Linked DNA regions of Homo sapiens: region 1 is linked to region 2. The links come from fine-mapping of genetic effects on gene expression. A gene starts in region 2. The other region holds a variant in brackets. All regions are shown on one strand. Distances are between the middles of the regions.

Region 1 (4,000 bases), 120 kb after region 2:
CAAAAAACGTAAAAATATGAGTAACGATTTCTTATGGCCCACATGTTGGAATAAAAACATCTTCAATAAATTTGTCTAAGTAAAATGCATTAGTTAATTGAATGTTAAGAGTAATTTTAATGTGGCAGCTAGAATTTTAAGAGCTGGGTATGGTGGCATGCACCTGTCATCAGCTCCACAGGAGGCTAAGGTGGGAGGATCACTTGAGGCCGGGAGGTCGAGGCTGCAGTGCGATTGCACCACCGCACTCTAGGCAATAGAGCAAGACCCTGTCTCAAAAAAAAGATAAAAAAACATTTAGAACGAGGCGTGTGCTCGCGTTATGTCTGCTGGGCAAGGCTGATCTGGGTTCTTTCTCTCTTTCAGAGAATACTGATGATCATTTTGGCAGTTGTTACTTGTGGATAATGGCCGGATCCTACCAGGCTTGTCTGGGGTGGGTCCAGGGCAGCCTTATTCTAGGGTTCGTGTAGCCTTAATGCTAAGGAGTGGCCCTTCGGGGAGCCCTGTCTTTTCAGCGTGGTCTCTGCTGTGGGTGGAGTTCGGATGAGTCTCTGTCCTTCCCAGGCTCTGAGAACGTTTGGCTCATGGCTCCCAAGGAGGGGTCAGTCCCTTGACCTGACGGTTTCATCTGTGCTTGTTACAGATGAACTGGGGTCCACATGCCTGGTGCAGTAAACCCAGACACCCATGCCGAGGTTTTGTCATAGAAAGGACGTGTGTATTTGCAGGGCGCCAAGCAAGGTGGGCCAGGAGGCTCATGTATAAATCCTGGCCTCCCCCACTGGCTACAGGCAAGGCTTGTAAAGCGGGGGTAGATCTCAGGAAAGCAGAACTGAAAGGCAGAGTCGTGCATAAGGACACAGAGGTTACATGTCGGCTTGGCCTAGAAGGGCGGTATCTGCAAGCAGGGCCTTATAGGTTATAGGTGGATTCAAAGGTTTTCTGATTTGCAGCTGGTTAAGGAGGAGAAGCTTTGTTTAAAAATTTGGGGTGAAGAGAAAAGAATGTTAGCTTAGGCTTGTGGGTGTGGCTTCCTCCAGGCCCGTCAGGAAGAAATTCAGAACAAAGAACGGGGTCAGAGCTCAGTCTTCAGTTTCTCCTTATCTGAGCCCTTCATGCCAGTAGATTAGTTTGTTGGGGAGGTCCTAGGTGGAGGGTCCAGGTTTCTGAAAGACAACTCAGGGATATACATTAAGATGTTATCTTTACTTTCTTTCTTTTTTTTTCTTTTTGAGACATAGAGTCTCACTCTGTCACCCAGGCTGGAGTGCAGTGGCGTGATTGTGGCTCACTGCAACCTCTGCCTCCCTGATTCTAGCGATTCTCCTGCCTCAGCCTCCCGAGTAGCTGGGATTACAGGCATGCGCCACCACACCTGGCTAATTTTTGTATTTTTAGTAGAGGCGGAGTTTCGCCATGTTGGCCAGGCTGGTCTTTAACTCCTGACCTCAAATGATGCATCCATCTCAGCCTCCCAGAGTGGTAGGATGTTGTCTTTTCTTTCTACAGGGAACAGTGCTGGGAGGTTGTCTTTACTTTCTACAGGGAACAAACATCTGTCTCCACCTTCCTTGACTGTTGTTTTAGGATACTGTTACCTTCTTGCTTATCAAGTCGCTGATTTACTTCTCAGAGTTATCTAAGTAACTGGAATTTCCCTTGAAGGAACTCAAGATTTTCCTTGATTTCCATGCTTGGAGGGCTCGCAGGCCCCTGAAGAGAGGGTTGCAGCCAGGCGGGAGTCCCCAAGCAGATTTCTGCAGCTCTGAGGAGCAGCCCCCTCTGCAGAGCCTGCCCCACCAGCTCGTGGTTCTGACTCTGAGCTCTGGTCACCCTCCCGTGTCGTGGCCTGCAGGCTCCTTCCAGGCAGGAAGCTGGCCCCCCCAACACAGCGTTAGAATCAGGCATTGCTGTGGGGTAGGGAAAGTGACCCCCTCACAGCCCGGAAATGGGAAGGCTCTGTGGTTTCCTCTCTGGGTTCCAGTTAGATTCCTTTCGGGAAAGTGAACTTGGATATGGAGTTGAGTGACCCCGAGTGCACCCCCGCAGTAAATGATGCTCAGGACTAAAGTGACTGAAGGCTTTTGGGGAAACAGATGCGAACAAAACAGCAGTATTCATTTTCTAATTAAAAGCTTGTGAAAATCGATGTCATTGAATCTGAGAAACATTATTTCGAACAAAGATCACACATGATAGAGTGCATATACTACAGCATCGCTCCACCGGAGCACAGGACGGGTGTGCCACGGAGGCCGACAGTTGTGGAAGGAGACAATGCACGGCCCGGCCCACCTGCTGCAGGCACCGCCAGGAGGTGTCTGCCTCCTTCGCTCCTGCGCCCAC[G/A]GCAGGCCCACCTGCCACAGGCACTGCCAGGAGGTGTCTGCCTCCTTTGCTCCTGCACACACCTGCCCCTGCAGGACTCGAGCTGGTCTCAGGCAACTGGTCATATTCCAGGTGGAACCCACGAGACCCTTCTTATCCTAAGCTTCCCATAGGATCTAGGCACATCTTTTTTCTTTTGTTTTAAGCCACCCAAGGCTGCCGAAACAGCATCGGCGTCCTCTCTCTGTCCGCTCCATCTCGCCCTGTGGAGCGCTGTCCCCGGCACACAATCCTGGCGCTGAGGAGGGGGCTGGGCGTGGTTGGGTCAGTGACTGGTGATGAAGAAGGTTTGGAGGACCCCCAGCCTTAATCCATTAAGATGGTGTGACTGGGGAGCAGAATTCGCAGAAGCGCACAAGCCATTTTTACGTGTGTGTAATGTCAGCGAATTGTCCGTTTCTATGAAATCACTCTGGAAAAACTAGTTTCTGTCCTCATTTACTTTTCAGAGAAGAAATGTTCCCATGAAGCCTCCAGATGAAGCCAAGGTAAGTTTTTGAACATGGAAGGGCAAGCCAAATATTATTCTCACAGGGAAAGTTGTATCCAGCCTTTGAGGTGGGGAGGTCTGTGTGTATGACGGCGTTTAGAAATGGAGTCCGTTTCTGATCAGTAAGATCAATAGTGTTTCTCCTCCTCTTTTCATGACTTGAGGTGAGTGGTGTGAAGCCGCAGTACATTCTTCCAAATCCAGAAATGGGTAGTTTCAGAGCAGTTGGCCCCGCTGGGTGCTGTCCTTGTGGGACACCCTTGCAAGGGTTGGGCAGGATGGGCCTTCTCAGGACCTGCTTGGTGAGTAGCAGGTGTTGTCCCAAGCACAGTGGGCTCTGGGGCCAGTGCTGGCAGGGCAGTGCTGTGAGCCCAGACTGCTGCACCTGCCGATTGGCAGGTGTGTGTCTCTGACAGTCAGCAGGCATGGGCTTGGGCTTTGGTCCAGGGTCCCTGGGAACCTGGAGAGACCCCTTAACATCTGTTTGAGGGCAGAGGCCGAGCTGCAGGGAGCTGATGAGAGAGTATGTGTTAGGGTGGCTGTAGTCTAGCCCTGAGGACACGCCTTGCTGGGAAAGGAAAGGGAACGTTGTGTGCTCTGTGAAGTGCCTGAGAAATAGTCCTGGACCCTAAAATTCTGTGTGTCTTCCTGTTGCATAATGTCCCTCCCCAATTTCTTTAGCCCCAAAAAGTTAACAAAGGATTGTTAGTTTGCGTTGTTGGTCTCAGTAGGTTTTTCTTTGACATGGATTTGCATATCCATTCATGAGCTCCAACCTGACAGTCCCTTGAACAGCAGCCTCAGTGAACAGGGCTTGGTCTTGTCACTTACTGAGGGGTGGGTTCACGTTTAGCAAATAATTAGAGTGATTTCAATAGCGAGTGTGAAGTAACATTTCGTTTTTCGTTTGATGTTTGAATTGCTCTTGATGTGTGTCTGTCTCCACAGGTTGGGGACACCCTAGGAGACAGCAGCAGCTCTGTTCTGGAGTTCATGTCGATGAAGTCCTATCCCGACGTTTCTGTGGATATCTCCATGCTCAGCTCTCTGGGTGAGTTGTAACAGGCACTTTCCCACAGCACCTGGTGAAGGTGTGATAGAGGAAGAAAACACACGGCCTCC
Region 2 (4,525 bases):
ACACACTTCCAGCAAACAGGGATGATGCTTTTCATCCAAGGTCAAGGTTGGTGGGGAAGGGCTCTGTCTTGGCCCATGGGCCTGCAGGTCTGTCTCTGAGTTGGGACAGCTGCTGGAAGGCCCCACTAAACTAATGTAAGATACTCGGAAAGTTTGTCACCAGGGGAAGAAAGCATTCTGGACTGCATCATTGGTGTCAGATTCCACTGTGTGTTTAGAAGGCACAGTTTGTTTCCGAGAGTCTCAAAATGTAAGCAGCAAACACCCTGCCAAGCTGCAGACATAGGGCAGATACAGAGAGGGGTGAAGAACTGGAGCAACTGAAGGCACTTCCCATGGATGCTGCGGGGAGAGGACCTCTTCCTGGGAGCTGAGGGCCAGGATCCCCCTGAGGCCCTCTCTGGTCAAATGAAAATGGTTCCTGTCTTATATATTAGGTGAAAGTTTGGATCTCTGTTCTGTAAACTGGCCAGGACTGCACAACAACCTCCCAGTGGCCCATGGAGTGGCACCCTCACGGGGTGAAGCCGCCCCCAGCACCAGTGCAGCCAAAGCTCCGGCTCCTTGGGTGAGCTGGAGAGGAGGAGGCACTTCAGCAGGGGCTGGGGGTGCTGTGTGATTTGCCTGAGAAGCTGCTTCTGTTAACGAAGTCCTGTGCCTGGTGGGAACTCGGGTCGGCCATGAGGAGGATGCACCCATGTCCTCACGCCTGTGGCTGGGTCTCCTCCTCATCTTGTGGCAGCGCCAGACATTCCAGAACATGGGTTCAGGAAACTTGGACTGGGTCTGAACCAGCAGGAAGCATGCCAAGAAACCTCCTCCCACCGTCCTGCTCTTCTCTCCCTCCCTCCCTCTTCCCTCCCTCCCCCGTCCCTCACTCTTCCCCTTCTCCCCCGTCCCCCTTTTCCTCTTTCTCTCTGATCACCAGTCTTCTGAGTTATCACAACCAAGTGAGACTGACTCAAGCTATTATTGAAAATATGGCCACATCGAATGTTTTTCTGATAAAAAGAAGAACATAAGTAATTGGGGCAGGGGGTGAGGTGAGGACCTGGCGGATGCCTTGGAGGCAACACGAGGGTGGATTTGCTTGGGCAGAGCTAAGCCAGTGAGGCCATCTCCACTCAGGCCCGATGGAGTGGAGGGCACTGCCTTGATCCAGTGGAGCCCGTGGACTGTGCCTTTTCCCAGACCTGATGCCTCTCCCACCCCTGCCCCTGTTGCCCCAGAGCCAGGTGAGGGCAGATGGCCCAGGGCCACCTCAGACCCCCACTGGGAGAGCAGCCAAAGCCATGCCCAGTACCAGTAGCAGTGCCTCATGTTCTGAAGATCTGCCTTGTGGATAAAAATGCCTCATCCATTCTTACCGCTATGGAATATTCACTTATAGACATTTATCACTTTTTCCAGGTTATAGTTTTGTGAAATAAAATGTTTATTATTTTTTGTTATGAAAGTGCTGTATGATCATTGTAAAAAAATTAGAAAAATGTGGAAAAATGTGAAGAGAAAAATAAAAATTCCCTCCCCCCCCCACAGATTCCCATCTCCCAAGATAATCACCTAATTATCTGCAGTTTTGTTTCCTACTTATTTTACTGAAAATCATTTCATGCTCATTTCTTTATATGTTGTCAACTGAAGATTCATGAGATTCATAAACATGGAAGGGAGAGCTTTATTTCTCTAAAGAGTTGCAGCCTGCAAGTAACCATCCACAGGCTGGGAGGTGTGGCCTCCACCCTAAACCGGAAGCAGGCACTTTGAGGGTGGGGAGGATGAGACAGGAATGTGCTGACCGTGGTGGCTGAGAGGCTACAGGAGGCACTGTGAGTACTCTACAAGGGTGAGGGGCACGCATGCACAGTGAGCTCACATGTGTGTTACATGTGTCCTGTGTTCACTTTGGGGTGGAGACTTCACATTTAAGTGCATTGAAATGAGGCTCTGTAGGTCAAAAGGTGAAATGAAGGACACAGAGGCATCCTGTGTGCAGCCTCTACACCAGCTAGAACCAGTCCACAGTCAGGATCTGTTATCAGGAAGGAATGCTGGCTGGTTGTTGTGTCAAAACTACACGAGGGGTGGGGAGTCTGGCAAATCTTTCAAAAGGGCTTTCTGTTTACCCTTAGGAAAGAAACTCAATGGCAGCGGTTAGTGAGGGAGGGGGCATAATGAGGTCTGTCTGGCATTTCATCCCTTCATGGCTTGGAACCCAGTGTTTAAGGTTTCTCTGGAGTCCCCTTGGCCAAGAAGGGGTTCATTTAGTCAGTTGGAGGTCTTGGGATTGTATTTTTATTTCTCAATGTTCAAATATTCTTTAAAAGTGCACTTTACCCTTCTGCCTGGTCCTTGAAGGTACAAATGTAGGGACATGGGTTTCACCATTTCTTCCCATCAAGCAGCTACATTGCTTTTAGTTTGCCATTGCAGGTAACATTGTATTGGGTGGCCTCCTTCACAAATTCCTGTTTATGTTTCTAAGTGATTCCTGAAACATTCCTCTTCCCTGGAAGAGGATGGAACTGCTTTTGTTCTTAGAGGTGCAGCCGCTCAGAAAGCTGTTGCCAGCCCACATGCCCACATGCCCACCAGCCACACAGGGGCAAGCTCGTTTCCTTTCCAAACTGTAGCAAACTGAAAAACAAAGTCTCATGATGGTTTCAGTGTTTGTTTCCTTGGTCATGGGCAAGGTTGACATCTACGTTGAATGTCTACAGTTATATTTCTCTTTCCATTATGGTGTTGTTTTCTTGATTAGTAAGAGCTTTTCCTCTGTGAAGGATATGTTTTCTCTGTAATTTTGCTGCAAACATTCACCCAGTTTGCTATTACATTTATCTGGTTTTTGATTTTTTTTGTGTGTGTGTGTGATGGGAGTCTCGCTCTGTTGTGCAGGCTGGAGTGCAGTGGCGCAGTCTCGGCTCACTGCAACCTCTGCCTCCTGAGTTCAAGCCATTCTCCTCTCTCAGCCTCCCAAGCAGCTGGGACTACAGGCACATGCCACCACGCCCGGCTAATTTTTTGTGTTTTGAGTAGAGATAGGGTTTCACCATGTTGGCCAGCCTGGTCTTGAACTCTCGACCTCAGGTGATCCACCCACCTTGGCCTCCCAACATGCTGGGATTACAGGCATGAGCCACCATGCCTGGCCCTGTTTTTTGATTTATAGAAGCTTAACATCTCTATGTAGTAAAAGAAAAAAAGTACATTCTTTTCTTATTTAATAGTGTAATCGGGAATCTTTGCCATTGGAATGGGCTGCTCCACGGTGTAGGTGTGAGTGATACCTGCCCAGTGGTGTTTCAAGCACCCTGCTCACTGCTGGGTCACCAGGTGGTGCTACAAGGTTGCCAGGGACCAGCCATGGCCCGTGTCCTTAGCTGCCTCTGCTCCCCTGGAGCTCACAACCTCAGCAGGATGGGGGTGGAGTGGGGTCTAGACTTTGGGTCCATTCCCTTCTGACTCATTTGCTGCTAGAAACGATTTGTGGCATCCAGGGGGCATTGTGTGCATGTGCTGTGGGGTAAGCACAGGGCTGGGCATCTGTGGGTGATGAACAGGTATGCCTGAGGGTGCTCACCGCCCCAGCAAGCAGGTGGCAGCAGGTCCTGGCTGTCTAGAGCACAGGACATTCACATGTGGAAGCTGGGCTGGGGCAGGTGGCCCCTTTGCACCTGCAGCAGAGCTGGCTTGGTGTCCGGCTGGAGGTAAGGACAGCCAGGTGGAGAGGGGGCGATGAGGGTGGATGGAGTTGCCCCTGAATGGAGATGTAGGCTCTGAGAGTCTTCCGTAGCCTTCCCAACAATGCCCTCCTGCAGGCAGGCCCAGGCCCACTGAGGTTTCCTCCTGCAGACAGCCCACCTGCCACCAACCCAGGCACTGACTGTCTCCTTAGAAACCAGTCTCCAACTCTTGGGCTGCAAAAGGAGATTGTGGCCACACTAGCTTCCGGGTTTGAAGTCCCCCAGGCCAGTGGGACATGGTGTAGGAAGCGGCCTTCTTCTTAGTGTTTCCCTCCAGAAGGCTGTGGGGAGGTGGAAGGGGCAGGCCTGCAGCCCCACCAGGCGGCCACAGTGAGGCTGGCTGGCCCAACTCACCCCTCCCAGGAAAAAGGATGGAGCACCCCTGGCCTCTGGTACCCACGGAGCCACTGGCAGGAGGCAGCCTGAAGTCCAGGCTGTTTCTCAGTTGGGCCAGACCAGTTGTCCCAGATGAAAGAGGTTGCCAGGCAGCTTTCTCTTGAGGCCTCCTCATGGCTGTTGACCAGAAGGCCACCTGCCCATGGGCTGTCATGTCTGTTTCCTGGAGCCTCAGGCCCACCCAATGGGCAGCACTCTGCATGGACTCTGAACACTGCATGGGGCCTGGGCATGGACACTGTGGGCTCCCAGCTGGCTGAGATGTGGAAGCGCTCTATGTGGGGGGCCCTCACCATGGGTGAGCCCAGGGTCCACTGAAGTAGAGGAGAGTTGTACCTGATGACACTTCTCTGCATACCTGCCCTCCAAACATGCACACACAC

Evidence for each region. PIP is the estimated chance that this variant, and not a neighbour inherited with it, causes the effect.
Region 1: its variant is the best candidate, but not a certain one, in a credible set for the expression of LINC02982 in tibial nerve (GTEx, PIP 0.63).

What each region holds. Positions count from the first base shown.
Region 1 is chr5:870,402-874,401 of GRCh38, reverse strand. BRD9 (bromodomain containing 9) reads left to right here. Exons shown (of 16, transcript NM_023924.5): 13 at 2,838-2,876; 14 at 3,827-3,929. Among named protein-coding and RNA genes, the nearest start is that of BRD9, 20 kb to the left of the region's middle. The variant G/A (reference allele first, on the strand shown) is at 2,350.
Region 2 is chr5:994,575-999,099 of GRCh38, reverse strand. LINC02982 (long intergenic non-protein coding RNA 2982) reads left to right here and starts at 1,760. Exons shown (of 2, transcript NR_104615.1): 1 at 1,760-1,829. LOC124900932 (a long non-coding RNA gene) reads left to right here. Exons shown (of 2, transcript XR_007058677.1): 2 at 1-1,456. RefSeq lists an enhancer at 3,827-4,327.